2 linked regions of the Homo sapiens genome follow. The protein of the gene in region 1 interacts with the protein of each later gene in a pairwise test. Each region holds a gene or a part of one and is shown on either strand. Other genes may lie near its edges. The genes, in order: P4HA2 and PRRC2A.

Region 1 (8,120 bases):
TCACTTTCCAGCACTCCCTCTACAGCAGATGACCTTTGGTCATAAGACCCACTGAACTGATACTCAGCAAGGTCCCTGCCACTTAACAGCCAAAGCTGGCACTGCAACCTTGGCTCTTGGCCTCCCTTGGTGTCTCTCACACCACTCCCGCTCCCTCTGTTTCTCCTATCTTTAGTTCATTCTCAGGGTTATTCATTGTCTGTTCTTTCTGGGTAGGTGCTCCCTGGAGCTCTGGCCTTAGTCATCTTCTCCATTCTTTCCTCAGAGTTCCTGCAAGCTATTTTCCTCACCCATGGCTTGGTTGCCACCTAAATTTATGTTTTTTATATTCAGCTAATTTTTCCATCCTCTAGACTCATATGGCAAACTGCCCACCAGACATCTTCTTCTCTGTGGTCCACAGGACCTTCCCACTGTCCTCAACAATGCTTCCTGGTGGGTTTCTGGGGCTCCCCCTAAAAAGGCCCCTTCCCACTTGGGAGATGGGGAATCTGAGGCTAAGAGGTGGCTGTGAACCCCAGTCCAGGGCAGGGCTGGGCCATCTGTCTGTGCTCACTGTGTCAGTGGCCCTTTAGGATATGCAGTCTAAATGTCCGATGGAGTTCTGCTTGGTGATGCCCCCTATCCAGTGGCTCAGGCTTTCCTTGAAGTGGGAATCTCTTTCCCTAATCCAGAGGCTCTTTGGAGCCTGACAATTTACTTCCCCTGCTGTAGGAACCAAGTACCAGGCAATGCTGAGTGTGGATGACTGCTTTGGGATGGGCCGCTCGGCCTACAATGAAGGGGACTATTATCATACGGTGTTGTGGATGGAGCAGGTGCTAAAGCAGCTTGATGCCGGGGAGGAGGCCACCACAACCAAGTCACAGGTGCTGGACTACCTCAGCTATGCTGTCTTCCAGTTGGGTGATCTGCACCGTGCCCTGGAGCTCACCCGCCGCCTGCTCTCCCTTGGTAAGGAGATTCTAGGGGAAGGTAAGATGGGAATGGAGAGTGGCAGAGGAACTGCACTGTGCTGGCATCTGCCTGACCCCTCTCCTGGGACTGAGTCAGTTTACCCTGTCACTTGGCCAGTGACTAATGCCTTACTGACTTTAGGACCAGTCCAGCTTCTTACTAGCTCCTTACCCACCTCAATCCTGGCCTTAGGTTTGCGCAGTCGCTGATAGATACGCTCAGGCCTGTGGCACTTGTGGGCCTTTTTAATAAGGACTCTGTTATGGTGTATCTGTCACCATGCAGGACTACACAGGGTGGAACCTTTACTACATCAGGAGCAGCTCAGGAGTCAGGTTGTACTTTAGGATTGTTACAGTGACAAACAGTAGCGGTGCTATTAGAGGCCTGAGGTCTAATAGTAGGACTTCATATGGCATTGATACTTTGTGTGCCTTGTGCTGTTGGACTGAAGAAGGCCAAAAGCACTGTGCCTTTAAAACTCATCTACCTTTTTTTTTTTTTTTTTTTGAGACAGAGTCTCACTCATCCAGCCTGGAGAGCAGTGGCACGATCTCAGCTCACTGTAACCTCCGCCTCCCGGGTTGATGAGATTTTCCTGCCTCAGCCTCCCAGGTGGCTGGGATTACAGAGGCACATGCCCCATGTTGTATTTTCTTTAGTAGAGATGAGGTTTTACCATGTTGGTCAGGCTGGTCTCGAACTCGTGACCTCACGTGATCCACCCGCCTCGGCCTCCCAAAGTGCTGGGATTGCAGGTATGAGCCACCGCACCTGGCCTCTGTTGGTTTTCCAGTTACGACCAGCGTACTCTGGTTAGATGCTGTGGAAGGTAGAATGCAGCATGCAGGTGAGCTGCTGGGAGAGAAACCCTTACAGAATAATTTCTCTAAATGACCTAACAGATGTTTGTGGTTTCCTTTTCCTTCTCATTCCTTGCATTTTCTAGACCCAAGCCACGAACGAGCTGGAGGGAATCTGCGGTACTTTGAGCAGTTATTGGAGGAAGAGAGAGAAAAAACGTTAACAAATCAGACAGAAGCTGAGCTAGCAACCCCAGAAGGCATCTATGAGAGGCCTGTGGACTACCTGCCTGAGAGGGATGTTTACGAGAGCCTCTGTCGTGGGGAGGGTGTCAAACTGGTGAGATGTGTGAGGGGGCTAGGGTGCCAAAGCTGTGGACCTGGACTCTGGCTCTGGGCAGGCAGATTTGGGGAAGGTGTTCTTTATTCTGTAGGTACTTTTCTCAGTATATCCCCCAGTTTTTCATGGCATCTCCTGAGGCTGACATGTGGATATTCTCTGAGGTGTAGGAAAGGAGACTCTCTCCCCTCGTGCCCCAGGTAGAGTGTTGCTCCTCTAAGTTACCAGTGAGCTCGCCTCCTTACCCCAATATGTCCCACTTTTTGCTTCACTCACTGTTGGGAAGAAAACAATGGGTGGACGTACCTCAGGCCCCAAAAGAAGTCATGGTATAAGTGGAGAGTAAGTCTCTGTGGTAAAGACACCAGCGTGTACTAGAGCTTGGTATCGAGCCTTTGAGAGCCCTGGGATCCTAGTGCTTCCTGAGGAGGCCCAGGTGTGACAGGCTCTGAGCCTTTTCCATGCCCCTGTCTGCATGGCTTCTACTGGCTCCTCCACCAAGAAAGGTTTCTCCCCTGTCCCAGCCCTTCAGACCTACTCAAGTCTTCACGAAAAGGGTCAGGAATTACTTTCTGCCATGGGACTTGAGGATGTGAGGTGATTTTGGGAGAGAAGAAAAATTGCATGATTTGTGGGGTGTTATTTCATGCCAGTTAAGCTGAAGGGGCTCTCCTCTCCTCTCCCCTCCCCCCATTCCCCCCTCTCCTCCCCTCCCCCCCTCCCCTCCCCCTCCCCTCCCCCTCCCCTCCCCCTTCTCCTCCTCTCTCCTCCCCTCCCTCCCTCCCTTCCTTTCTTCCTTCCTTTTTCTTCTCTTTTTCCTGTTTCCTCTTTTTCCTTTTCTTTTCTTTCTTTCGTCTCACCCTGTCGCCCAGGCTGGTGTGCAGTGGTATAATCATAGCTCACTGCAGCTTTGACCTCCCAGCCTTGAGCAATCCTCCTGCCTCAGTCTCCTGAGTAGCTGGGACTACAGGTATGCACCATCATGCCTGGCTAATTTTTTAGAGACAGGTCTATGTCATCTAGGCTGGTCCCAAACTCCTGGTCTCAAGCTATCCTTTGGCCCCCCAGAGTTCTCGGATTACAGGCATGAGCCACTGTGCATGCCCACCTGCTGGGACTTTTGTTTTCTTCTGTGGTGTGGTGGGAGGGAGCAGCTGCTGGCCATGAGGTGAGTCCAGTGTCTGCAGACAGCCAGACTGGGACCGAGGATTAGGACTCACTCAGCTCAGGGCCTGTTACTCTGTGCTTTCCAGACACCCCGTAGACAGAAGAGGCTTTTCTGTAGGTACCACCATGGCAACAGGGCCCCACAGCTGCTCATTGCCCCCTTCAAAGAGGAGGACGAGTGGGACAGCCCGCACATCGTCAGGTACTACGATGTCATGTCTGATGAGGAAATCGAGAGGATCAAGGAGATCGCAAAACCTAAAGTAGGTGTCACTGTAGGTCCTTCTCGGGTCACTGAAGGGGGAAGGTCCTTTTTCTCATCCCTAGCACTATGGGTGGTTGGTTTGCCCATCTAGCCACCCTTTATCCATATCTAGCATGGGCCTACCGTGGGGATACAGAGATGCTTCAGACTCAGCCTGACCTTGTGAGTTCATGGTCCAGTGGAAGAAGAACAGGGTAACCAATGTGGACAGCCAAGTGCTATCATAGAAGGTCACGCTGGGAACAGGGCAGGTCTACACTGGTGTGTCAGTTCACCTGGTTGGGAGACTGGTGCGTGGGTGAGTTTTTTGGAAATGTTCCATAGGATGCTATGAAGCTGGGTCCTGTGGAGCTCCTGATTAGGACTGTAAATGAGGTGAATGACTTAGAGGAGAATGTATATCTTTATAATATTGGGTCTTCTCATCCAAGGGCATGACAGGTCTCTCCATATCTTTTTAAGTTTTCTTCATATAAGCCTTGAACATTTCTTAAGTTTATTCCTTGGTAGTTTCTTTGTTACTGTTAATTTACTTTATTTCTTCATTATTATTTTTAACTGGTTACATTATTTTATTAGTTTACTATTATATGCCAAACTATTGATTTTACAAATACATTTCATAGTAAGAGCTAATGTTTACTGAATTCTTAACTGTGGCAGGAACTTCTAAGTGCTTAACATATATATTAAGTGTTATGTCACAGTTATGAACAGCTGCTCATAATGATGTCACTGTCTCTGTTTTACCTATGAAAAAGCAAACTCATACAGATTGCAGCTAGTGGTTGAATTTACTTATTTCTTTTTTGGTTTTTAGCTGATTTCTCTTTGGTTGCCTGGATAGCATTAACACCTGGAAATAAGGAAAATTTTATTTTCTCCTGATACTTGTAGTTCCTTTGTTTTTATAACCTTATTGAATTGCCCAGAACTTCTAGAGCATAATTACGTAGAATAGGCATCCTTGTCTCATTCCTGAATTTCCTGGAAATTCCTATGGTATTTTACTGCTAAGAATGCAGTTGGCTGTTGGTTTTGTATATATGCCATGTTTTAAAATTATTCTTCTGTTTCTAGTTCATAAAAGATTTGTTCCCCATTTGACATCTTTCAAAGAGACCTATTTGCTGCCATATCCCATCACTGATGATTGGGAGGGAGGATTTAGCTCGATTCTCTATTGCTCTGCTCCTAATAGAATTGTAGGGGCCGAGGTGACCAGGAGGCCCGACACTCATGGAGAGACCTGAAATAGGTTCCTATCCTGGCCCCTGGACCTCATCTTGGAACAGCTTTGGCTTGAGGTACTAGGACATCTAGGGCTTTGAGTCAGTGGTTGGCATCATCGATGTGGCTGAGGAAGGGGGCTAGCCAGATATATGGAGAATGGGGACTAGGACTCCCCTTTCTACTCAGCTCCAGAGTCCTCCAGGAAAGAAAACTACTTTGTTGGTTGTGCCAGGATTTCCTGAGAGATTTCTTACCCGTTCTTCAGTTCCAGACACTGAGAACATTTCTCTGTGCATGTGTGCATATGTGTACACATGTGTGTGGCTGGCCAGAGGGTAGTGTTAGGAAAAGATATATTTGAATAGAAGCCATGCAAAGAGCCAAACAAGGTTGGCAAACATGTTTGGCTCTTAACATGGCTTCTATTCAAAGATAAGCTGACCCCTCCTTTCCGGAGACTGTGAGGGACAGATGCTATTCTGGCTTTGAAGTAGAGCCAATGAGCTTAACTTGGCCTGTGGGGAATGCCTGGCAGCTGTCTGTGGGGTCTCTGGCCTGCTTTCAAAATAGCCCTGTGCTTCCCCTGGGGCAGAGCACAGCTGCTCAGAGCCTCTTTGTGGGTGTCAGGCCAATGCTGAGGCACAGATGTTTGGATGGGGTCTGGCTGTGGCTGCAGTTTTCAGGGAGGGACTGACATGAGCTGAAGCTCAGGAAGGGCCATGAGTAGGAGCTTGGGAGCCGTCTGTCCTGCTTGTGCTGGCCATCTTACCAGATCATGCCATAGCAGCACAGTGTCCAAGTTGGTCCATCTCACCCCCTTACTAGCCTTCTGGTCCATCTACTCCTCTCCATCCCTTCTGCCACCACCTGGCCCGGGCCACCATCATCTCTTGCCCTGACCTCTGTCGTGGCCTCACTAGCCTCCCAGTCCCCACTCTGGCCCCTCATTAGTCAACTCTCCATGAGGTATTCACAGTGATCCATTTTACATTCACATTTTGAGTGTCCCTCCCCTGCATAAAGCCTTCCCCATTTCTCGTTGGCCACAAGGTTGCATCTAGTTCCTAGCCCCTGCTTGTCTCTTCAGCCTGTTCTCTCTTACTACTTCCCATAACCTTTAATCCACACCTACTGCAACACCCATTTTCATTCCCAGGCCTCTGGATTGCTGCTCTTTCCCTGTTCCTGTAATGTTCCTCTACTTGGATAACTCATGTTAACCCTTCAGGCCTCAGCTAGGTGGTCTCCTCCCCTAGGAAGCTATTCTTGACACTATACCCTGAGCTTCCACAGGATGGTAAGTTCACCCATGCTGTGCTGCAGTTACCTGACTGGTTTTCTGCTTTCCCCACTTGACTGAGTTGTAAGAGTGCAGGGGCCATGTCTCAGTTACCTAGCATAGTGCCAGGCACAAAGTAGGCACTCATCAATATTTATTGAAATCAAGGGGAAGTGTGTTGGGGTGGGAGTACCTGGGCCTATGGCCCCACCCATGTGAGGTCATGAGGACAGTCCACAGCTGAAGCACATGGACCTTTGCCATGTTGGCTGGCTCTGGGCGGCGAGTCCCCCTTGGGGTTTCACTAAGCCTAACTGTGGAGGCTGGGGGAGATGAAGTAGATGCAGGGAGTGCATGTGTAGTGTGTACCTGTATGAGTGGGTGGCTTCCAGGCAGTGGTTCACTTATTTTAACTTACAGAATCTTTTCCTGGTTTTATCATCTGACTTGTAAGGATCCCAAGGGAGCGAAAACTGTGCCATCTGTCTTTGCTTCTTGAGGCTGTGGGAACCCAGTGTGAGGTGGTGCAGCAGGAGAGTGTTTGGATGGGTTTCTTGGCAGAGGAGCCCACTGAGGTTCGGAAGGATGGTGGAACTTGACTCAATTGAGAGAAGTACATAAGGCGGAGGCTCAGGCATGGTGGCACAGTCTGAAAATGGTGGGAGTAGCTAAGCTCAGGCAGGCTGTGCTCAGGCAGGGGTGGTATGTGGGCCTGGCAAGGAAAGGGGCTAGTCAGGCAGATGCATGGGTAGACAAGGCAGGCATAATTCTGCAGGCAAAGCGGACCTGGGGAGGAGAAGGGATGAGCAGTGACCGAGCAGGGCAATAGCCAGGAACTGATTGCGGATTGGGAATGTGGAGGCCTCAGACTCTTGCCCTCAACTGGCCTGCAGGATCTTGGGGCCTTGGCTAGAGCCATTGGCTGCAAAGCTTCCTCCACTAGCATGGCAGTAAATCTGGTCCCAGTGCTCTCTGGGAAAATATTCAAGGCAAAACAAACAAACAAACAAATCAAGTCTTCCCTCTCCTCCTTCCTTCTAGCTTGCACGAGCCACCGTTCGTGATCCCAAGACAGGAGTCCTCACTGTCGCCAGCTACCGGGTTTCCAAAAGGTAAGCAAAGAGCAGGGGTTCGTAGCTGCTCAAGCCCCAACTTCAGGACTTCTCAGTGCCTACCCTAGGGATGGGTGGCTTGCCTTTTCCTGCCTGCTGGCACCTCCTCACCCCCTTGCAGCAGGCATCCTGTACTGCCTGTTCATGCTGGCCCTGACTCTGGGGACAGAGTTCAGGACCTCATGGAAGCCTGCCCTTCCGTCTTCTTTTCTCTGCCCTTTTCTTTTTGCCCAGCTCCTGGCTAGAGGAAGATGATGACCCTGTTGTGGCCCGAGTAAATCGTCGGATGCAGCATATCACAGGGTTAACAGTAAAGACTGCAGAATTGTTACAGGTACAGATAGTACCTGGGACTGTAGGAGTTGGGAAGTGGGTATTTGTGGCTAGATGGTCTCACAGGGTGTCCAGAACTGGGCCAAGAGGCCCAACTGTATGACTACTGCCTGATGCTATGAATATGGAGTGATCTCATTTTAGGAAACCAGAATTAATCATGCCTGCTGGCTTTCAACAATTAGTGTTCAACAAATATCTATTGAGCATCTGCTGTGTGCCCAAGTGTGCTGCAAGCTAGGGATCAGGGGTAGTTATGGTAGGTTCGTTCATGTCTTCTTGACAACAGAAGCTCAAATCCTGAATGGTCTCAGGGACATCTCTAAGAGAGCTAAAAATGACTTCAGAGGCCATGGTTCTGTGTCATAATCAAATACATTTGAAGGTCAAAGTATTCTGTGTGTTTTCTCCTGCTGAACCACAACTGAAGTTGCTCCAAAAGCAGCAGCAGGGGACTTCCCATGAGGGACTGCCAAGATGGGGTCAGTTGAGAATTCAAAGAAAGCGGCACTAAACCCCTGGGTCTTCAGTCCACAGCATTTATTAGGGAACTTGCAGAGTGGGCTGCAGCAATCCTCAAAATGGACAGCAAGAGACAAGAATTGTTTTACCTAAGTATTTCCACAGTGAG
Region 2 (8,120 bases), on another chromosome or scaffold:
AGCTCACTGGAATAAGTAATGAATATTTCCCTGACTGAAACTACAGATCACTCAGCACCATGCTTTAAGACAATGCAAACAACTCATCCCCCAAATCATTGTAGAAGTTTTTTTTTTTAAATCCTTTTATTACTCTTTTTTAACAAACAGCCCCAGGGACAGGGGACCAGGGGAAGGGGGAGGAGGGGAAGTGAGGCCCCAGCCCCAGAACCCCTCCCCGCCCACCCCTTTCCCCCTTATATATTTATAATCTATATACAAGCCCCGGGGGTAGGGGGCAAGAGGAACTCCCTCAGCGGGGTGGGGGCAACCCAGGCTCCTTGTCCCCTCGGGACCCAGGCTCCTCTGCCCGTCGGGAGGGCCCTTCTCGAGGTGGCGGCCCTGTCCGCTCCCAAGGCTTAGGTATCCAGCGCAGGGCATCTGGTGGGGAGGCCTAGGGGACAGGCATGTGTTAAACAGTGAGTCACAGTGAGAGGTCAGCGATGAGACGGAAGGACAGGAAATCAGGTGGCAACTCGAATTTAGAGTTGGGGCCACAAGGGTTTCTCCTTCACCTGCTGGTAAAGGTCGACGCGCTGGGTGCGGAAGACTCCACTGTAGGTGGAAGGCGTGGCCTTGAGACGGGAATTGAGGCCAGAGAAGGACCTAAGGGAAGAAGGGCGTCTAAGGCAAGCCTAGGATCCAGACCCTGGTTCCAAAGTAAGGAAGCACTTGGAAAGTCCACATCCCTATTCCGTTTCACCTTCCAGTTGGGGGAGTCCGTGATGATCCAGGTCCCCCAAGGTTGCTGCTCAGTTTTTGATAATCCTGGAACGGCTTTAGTTCCACTGGATGCAGCTGAGGGGAAAAAAATCATGAGCTGCCTACCTTGAAATACAGAATCCCTACTCCCAAGTCTTGGCGCTCCCTAGCCCCTCAGTTCCTGTACCTTACCTCTGCTCGCCCCAAGCTAGCGGGGAAGGGCCTGGCAGGTGAAGGCAGCACCCGAGTAGCAGGAGCAGGTGGGGGCCGCACAGCCAGGCTGGGGGGCTGCAGAGCAGGGCCCACAGGTAACAGAGAAAGGGGAGGTGGGGCAGGAGGTGGTGCTGGCGGCAGGGAGCCAAAGTTCACCACAGGCAGCTGTGAGTCTACCATGGGTAGAAGCATCTGTAACAAGAAATTTGGGTGTGCATGTTGGGGGCAGGGAGGAATGTCAGAAAACCAGGGAAAATCAAAGCCAGCAACTGGACAGAGAAATCAAATGAAGGGGAAGTGTGAAGATACAATATACCTGCTGGGCAGGAGCCCCTGAAGGGAGAAAGCCACTTTGGCCACCAGGCTGCAGAGGAGTAGAATAAAAATCCGAAGGGGATGGCAGATCCTGGCGTACCTGTCGGGAAACAGGGAGAAATATATCAACCCCCACAAAATCATTCTCCCTACCCTATCCCCCAATATCTAATACCTGCCCCCCTCTTACCTGAAGCAACGATGTGTCAGGCAAAGGACTGGGGCAGAAAGCCGGAGAGTAGAGGAAGGAAGGTGGAGGGTAGAGAACTCCTCCAGCCGGCAACTTCCCCAGCTCTGTAGCTTGCATTGTGGAGAAATCCAGAAACTGGCCCTTGAGAGCTAACCCAGAGAGCAGTGCTGAGGGAGGGGCTGGGCCGGGGGGTAGGTATAGGGGCTGTGATCTGAAAATAAATTGTGGGGAGAAAAGCTGTTAGGAAGCCAGAGTCCTAGCAATGCCTTAAGTCCACTAGCTTCTAGTACCCTAGAACTGTGTCTTCCCCTTCCCTCTCCCCGAAACACATCTCCAAGTACTTCTGTGATCCACAGGCATCGAGTCTTACCTGTAAGGGTGCAGTGAGGGTGTCCCAGGGCGGAAGCCTCCACTGTTTGGATGTAATTGAGAGTCCATGGCTCCCCCAGAGATCTGCAGGAGAGGAGCACGGTTGAAACAGCTTTAGTATCTGTGGTCAAGAAAAAAGATCACCATCCCACCCATAGAAGCAAAAAGTAGGGAGAAAAATGATGTGACAAAGTGGTATCTCACAACTCTGCAACGTAGAAAGGCTTGATTATAAATACATACCAGGCAGAAAAAAATTATTATTCACTGAAGGGGTCATGCAATGGGAAGCGGGGCCTACCTGAGAACTGGAAGGCCCAGCACTGCCATAGAAAACCTCAGGATACAGGCGCTGGCCTGAGGAGCTGGGCTCCGGGACACAGTGCCCAGAATCCAGGTTCTTGGATTGTGGCTCAGCAGAGGCAGCAGCACTGGGAAGCAGCTCCCAGTCTCGTGATACAGGAATGGCCTGGGAAGGAGAGGCCTCGTGGAGAGGGATGTCTGGCATCCTGGACGCCCTGGTCACTCCCAGCAATCTTCCCCAGAAATCTTGGGCCTTTCCACCAAACTCTTACTCCCACTTACCTCAGTGACTGATGCTGTTAGCTCCTTCTCTGCTTTCAAGCTGTCTCCTACCACTAGGCGTAAGTCTGAGTCCTGTGATCACAAGAAGGCAGGAGACATTGTCCCGTGACAGACATGTGTCCTCTATGTCCCACCTTTAGTCCTTCCCTTCTCTCCACCCAACTCAGGATACCCAGATCCAGCCCACACAGACCTTGTCACTAGTGCCAAACTGGACTGGGGGACCAGGTCGATGGGATGGCCGAATGGGGCCAGGCTCTGTGCCTCGGTCTGTACGCTGTGATCGTTCTGTGCCAATGGGGCCAGGGGGCAGAGGCTGCTCCCGGGGCAGCTCCTGGATTGGGCACACAGTAAAGTGCATTGGGGGAGGGAAAGGGAAATCCAAATTGGAATGCCCAGAACACACACGCAGAGAGAAAAAGCAGAAAAAGGTAGGGCCAAAGTCAGATTCCTGGAAACATTCCCCTTATCCTTTTTTGGTCTTTTACCTTTCTGTCCCCATCGTGGGGGGCAGGTGGTGGTCTCCTAGGAGGTTCAGAGCCAGGTGGACCCTCACAAGGAACAGCATTCAGGGGTGAGGAGCCTCCAGGCCTCTTGGGGGGTCCCTCTGCTGCCCCCTTGAGTCCTCCATCAGGGGAACTTCGCTGGCTGCAGGGACCTGATGACACCTGAGAATCCCCACTCAGGTCCACCCCACTGTCAGACTGACTCATCTGAGAGGAGTGGAGAAGGAGCTAGTTAAGTCAGGGTAGAAAGCACCCCAATACCTGACTGATGCACACATACAAACTGCAGAAAGGGGACAGCCAAGTGAGAGAACAGCTCCAGACTCAACCCAGAGCAGGTGGGGGGTATGACCAGTGCTCAAAAAAGTCCCAGCTCAGACACACCCTCCCACCCTCACTCACTTCTGTGCCAGCCACATCCTCAAAAGGACTCAGGGGCTCCATCCAAGGCTCCATGGAGCTGGGCCGGTAACTCTTTCGGCTAGTGGCTGGAGAAGGGAGCACCAACCAGAAGAGAAGTGAGGAGATGACAGTTCAGAAGCCCCTCTCATTCTTAACCCTTCTACCATAGTCCTTTCACTCAGCTTTACTCACCAGTATGTAAACGGTTCCAGATGTGAGGGGTCAGGGCCTCTGTGCCTGTATCTCTGGACTCTGCCTGAGGGCCTGGGCCCTCAGGCTTAGAGCCCAAGAATCCAGAGCTATGAGGAGGTGGCAAAGATTCCTACAGATGAGAAGGGCCAGAAGCAAAACATGAATTGGGTGGGAATTGGGAATTATAGGAAGCCAGGACAGAGTGGGGTGACACAGGGTGTGGGGACAACAAGGGAGACACATGGGAGACTAATACTGAGAATTCTGGAGTAAAAACACAGTGAAAGAAACAGGAAAGAAAACAGAGAAAACATAACCCAGAAGAATTTTCACGAGTAAGAGTGCAGTGAAGCACAATCTCAAACCCATCCCTTACCTCCTGTAGCAGCTCTGGTTTTCTGGGAGGCCGCTCCCGACGTTTAGGGGGAAAGGGACTAACCCCGGCAGAGTCCCGAGGAGTCCCACCCACCCCTCTCACCATTGGCCCCGGCTCCTCAAAGTGGGGGTCTGGGAAAGAGAAAAAGGGTCAGCATCTGCCTGGCTCTGCCACTGACCCTAACTTTTCCTCTCTACTCCACCTCCCAATTCTTCTACCCTTGCTCCCTGCAGAAACGCACCCAGCAGCAGGGTCCCTAGGCCAGGTTCTCCACCCGCTCCCTCCAGCACTTGACCTTCTCTGGGGATGGAGATATTCCCACCCATAACCCCTCCAGCTTACCAGAACTGAGGCCGCTGTTGACCCTCTGGGGCTCGTATCGGGTTGGGGGCCTAGGAGAGGGGCCCTGAGGGGCTTGGGGAAGCCCAGGCTTGTGCCTTGGATGACCCCCTGGTGCAGTTACACTCCCTTGACGGCTACTAAGCTGGGCCAGAGCCTGTTGGATGCCAGCAGGGTTGCTGTGGATAACTTGGTCCAGGCGGAAGACAGCAGAACTGCTGGGAGGTGGGGGAGGCAGGGGAAGCCCCGGGGGACGCTCCTCTGGAGGACGACTGGAGAAAACAGAGCATTAGCTCCAGTATCCACTAAATCGTTACTTTTTCCCACAAGTTATGTTTCCCAACTTCTGCTTACAACCTATTCTCTTCCCTATTAAAGTCCAGGTGTTTTTGAGTCCTTCTAAGGATTCCTATGCATACAGATGCACAGACTGGAAAGCAAAGAACCAGCAATGAATACATAGGTGGGTGTTCTTGACTCTAACACCCTACCAACCGCTTTCCAGTTGCCTTAGCCAGACATGGAAATCCTACTGACATTCTAGAGCCCATGGCCCCTCAGGCCACAATCTCCACTCCACCCAAACTTATCTTTCCCTCAGGCTTTTTCCCCCTCCTCCAATTTTTAAACCACAATAAATTTGTTTGTTCCTACCCACCTTCGGTTCTTGGGAGAGGGCCAGCTCCTCTTGTCGCCTCGTCCTGGCCCGGTCCTTCCTCCAGGACCCCCACCGCCTCCTCCACTGCTGCTGCCACTGCTGCCAGCCTTGCCCCCTGGGCCAGGGCGCCGATTCTGCCGTTCCATGCCTGGCCGCTGACTTGAGAAGCTCCGTTTACTCAAATCCTTGGCTCTCTGGCTCAGATCTCCGCGGGACATGGCTGAAATACCTGGTACGGCTCCACCTCCACCTCCCCCAGGAGTTCCCACAGCCTTGGGTGTCAGCAGTACTGGTGGGGGTGCCTCTTTGTCCCCTCGGCGCTCACTGGTGAAGTCACTGCTCTCTGATGCAGTCTCCCATTCCTCATTGGCTTGGTCTGAGTTCTGGTTTGACAGATCAGGAGACTTGGCAGCTGCCCGGCGAGGTGCTGGGGCCACTGTGACTGTTGTGAGGGCCTCCTCAGGTCCAGGAGCGGAGGCTGGAAGGGTTAGGGAGGGCTTGCCCTCAGACCCCCTTGCGGCATTCTCCCGTTCCTGCTTCAGCCTCCGGAAACGAGGCGGTTTATCCTGCTGCTGAGCCCTCCCATGTCGCCTCCTTCGGGGTCGCTCCCCATCTTCCATGCCCACATTGCTACCTCCATTGCTGCCTCCGCGCGCCACAGGGGACAGAGGCCCTGGGATCAACTTCTCTTTCAAAGGCTCCTTACTTGGTGGCAAAGGGCCTGTGGGAGGTTTCTTGGGAGCCAGAGACTTGGCTGGAGGGCTCCAGCCTGGGCAAACTTGAGGAGGGGGCCTCCCTCCTCCTCGGCCCCGGCGAGATGGCACCCCTCTGGGAGTGAAGACTCGCCCACCCCGGGCAGTGAAGCGGGCTGGGGCTGGTGAAGGTGGGGCTCCTGGTGGTGGGGGAGCGAGAGGGACCTGGGTGAGTGTTCCCTCCTTGGGTGTGGGAGCCTCCTTGTCTGAAGGAGCCAGATCACTCTCATGGGTCTCGCTGCCTGTTTCTGAGCCCCGCTGCCGGCGCCGCTTGGGGATTTCCTCATACTCTGAACCCTCGCTCCGTGTCTCGCTGGCAGTGCGGCCTCGGGGAGCAGGAGGGTGGTTTGGTCCCCCTGTCCCACCTCCACGCCCATCATCTCCTCGAAACTCTCGGTAACTGCGGAATTCCCGGCTTCGGGCTCCCCGCCCTCGTCCCCCATAGGTCCCCCGAAAACCCCTCCCTCTGGCAAAATACTCGCCTCGGCCCCGACCCCGGCAAGAGGTAGGACCCACTCTTTCATACGAATAGTCCCTCCGAAGCCTTGGGGCAGGGGAAAGATTTCCATTGGGTGGGGTCTCCTTGGGGCCCCCTAGCTTCCCCTTGGTTATCTTGAGTGGGTCTGGCTTTGGGGGTTTGGGGGTTTCATCCCCCTGTTCGAGGGGCTTGGGAGGCAGCTCTTCTACTTTTGTAGGTGGTGGAGGTTTCTTTATAGGCCCAGCCCGGCGGGGTGGGGCCCCTGGCTCCTCTGGAGGGATTCCACGACGACTGCTCCCTGGACGAGGGCCCCAGCGGGTCTCTGTGCGACTCTCTCTGCGTGGTGGTGGGGGGCCCTGGCCTCCACTCCCGACTCCGCGGGCAGGCTTTCGGCCTGCTTCTGGCCCCGTCAGCTGTGCAGTCTCCTCCTTAGGGGGCTCCTTCTTGGGTGGTGGAGTTTGTATCTTGGCCACTTCATCACTGCCTGGGGGCCAGGGGAGTGGACGGGGCCCTGGTTCCTCCAGAGGAAAGCGAGAGATTGGGGGCCCAGGGGCTCCATTCTCAGGAAAGCCTGGATAACTGGCCAGATAGGGTGGTGGGGGAGGTACTGGAGGAGTCTCGCTCCTGAAGAGACAGACAGAAAGAATGGAAATAAGTATCTCAGGAAAACCAGAACTAGGTGGGAAAAGAACACTTTATTATGATGCAGACTCTCTTTTACTATTTTTCTGTTTGTTTTGGCAGAGATGGCATCCAGTTGCCGAGGCTAGTCTCGAACTGCTGGGCTCAAGCAATCTTCTTGCCTCAGCCTCCCAAAATGCTGGGATTACAGGCATGAGCCACTCCATCCAGCCTCTCCTTTCCCGTTCATCCCTATCCCTACCACTAACCCAAAGTACCTTTCTCCCAGGCCTAGATCCTTTCACTGTGAACTCACCCATTTCTCATGACCAAGACTCACCTCATCCCCTTGTCATCCTCATCCGCAGCCTGGCGCAGAGGTGAGGTAAGTGGGCGGGGTTCAGCGGGTGTGGCGGTGAAGACATCTCCTACCCAGGCCAACTTTGGATCCACCGGTGGAGTGCCCCGTTCCCGTAACATAGCAGGTGCATGACGGTCAAATGGCTCTGAGCTTGAGCCCCCACTGTCTGAACGCTCTCGGGGAACTAGGCCTGAAGAAACCAAAGAAAAAGAAAAATAATCCTATTCATGTCACAAGCCCTCCAGCCCAAAAAGCATCTCCCCTCGCGGTCAAGTCAGCTCTTCCATCTCTTGTTCCCAGTAGGTCCGGGCCTTGCCTGCTCTTATATAACAAGGTTATCCACTCAGATTCCCTACAAGAGAATCAACCCACCCCAAATAAATCCTGGCAAATGAAGGACCACTGCTTCTTTCATTCATTCATTCATTTTTGAGATGGAGTTGTGCTATTCATTCATTCATTTTTGAGACGGAGTTTCGCTCGTTGCCTAAGCTGGAGTGCGATGGCACAATCTCGGCTCACTACAACCTCCACCTCCTGGGTTCAAGCGTTTCTCCTGCCTCAGTCTCCCGAGTAGCTGGGACTACAGGCGAGCGCCACCACGCCGGCTACTTTTTTGTATTTTTAGTAGAAATGGGGTTTTACCACGTTAGCCATGGTGGTCTCGAACTCCTGAACTCAGTTGATCTGCCCACCTCGGCCTCCCTAAGTGCTGGGATTACAGGCGTGAGCCACAATGCCTGGCCAACCACTGCTTATTTCTTAACTAAGCCCATTTTTGCAACAGAGCTATCTCAGCAGTGCCAAGCATATGCCCTTCCCTCATCACTATGATGGGCAAAACCTATCGTACCAGAGTCACAGTAAGACCCTAATATCCAATGCCTAAGACTGAGGGGACTTTCCTGTTTCTCACTCCTCCCATGCCCCCTTACCAGAGGGATGCACACCAGGAGGGTAGAAGTCTAGAGGGGGACGACCCTGGAGGAGCCGGGGGTCCACATAAGGAGGAATCATCATCC

What was found.
Region 2: the proteins of P4HA2 (region 1) and PRRC2A interact in a two-hybrid assay, tested with the Homo sapiens proteins (one study listed by BioGRID and IntAct).

Annotation. Positions count from the first base shown.
Region 1 is NC_000005.10:132,203,118-132,211,237, reverse strand, and holds part of P4HA2 (prolyl 4-hydroxylase subunit alpha-2 isoform 2 precursor), read left to right. Parts: intron 1-714; coding exon 715-954; intron 955-1,906; coding exon 1,907-2,100; intron 2,101-3,353; coding exon 3,354-3,530; intron 3,531-7,085; coding exon 7,086-7,156; intron 7,157-7,390; coding exon 7,391-7,490; intron 7,491-8,120. UniProt on the Homo sapiens protein: Catalyzes the post-translational formation of 4-hydroxyproline in -Xaa-Pro-Gly- sequences in collagens and other proteins.
Region 2 is NC_000006.12:31,629,759-31,637,878, reverse strand, and holds the end of PRRC2A (protein PRRC2A), read right to left. Parts: coding exon 8,034-8,120; intron 7,289-8,033; coding exon 7,078-7,288; intron 6,741-7,077; coding exon 4,887-6,740; intron 4,501-4,886; coding exon 4,232-4,500; intron 4,093-4,231; exon of another isoform or gene 4,021-4,092; coding exon 3,890-4,020; intron 3,644-3,889; coding exon 3,514-3,643; intron 3,408-3,513; coding exon 3,322-3,407; intron 3,127-3,321; coding exon 2,902-3,126; intron 2,748-2,901; coding exon 2,607-2,747; intron 2,486-2,606; coding exon 2,414-2,485; intron 2,298-2,413; coding exon 2,130-2,297; intron 1,913-2,129; coding exon 1,830-1,912; intron 1,671-1,829; coding exon 1,460-1,670; intron 1,370-1,459; coding exon 1,271-1,369; intron 1,147-1,270; coding exon 934-1,146; intron 838-933; coding exon 743-837; intron 646-742; coding exon 555-645; intron 434-554; coding exon 293-433; 3' UTR 108-292; downstream 1-107. UniProt on the Homo sapiens protein: May play a role in the regulation of pre-mRNA splicing.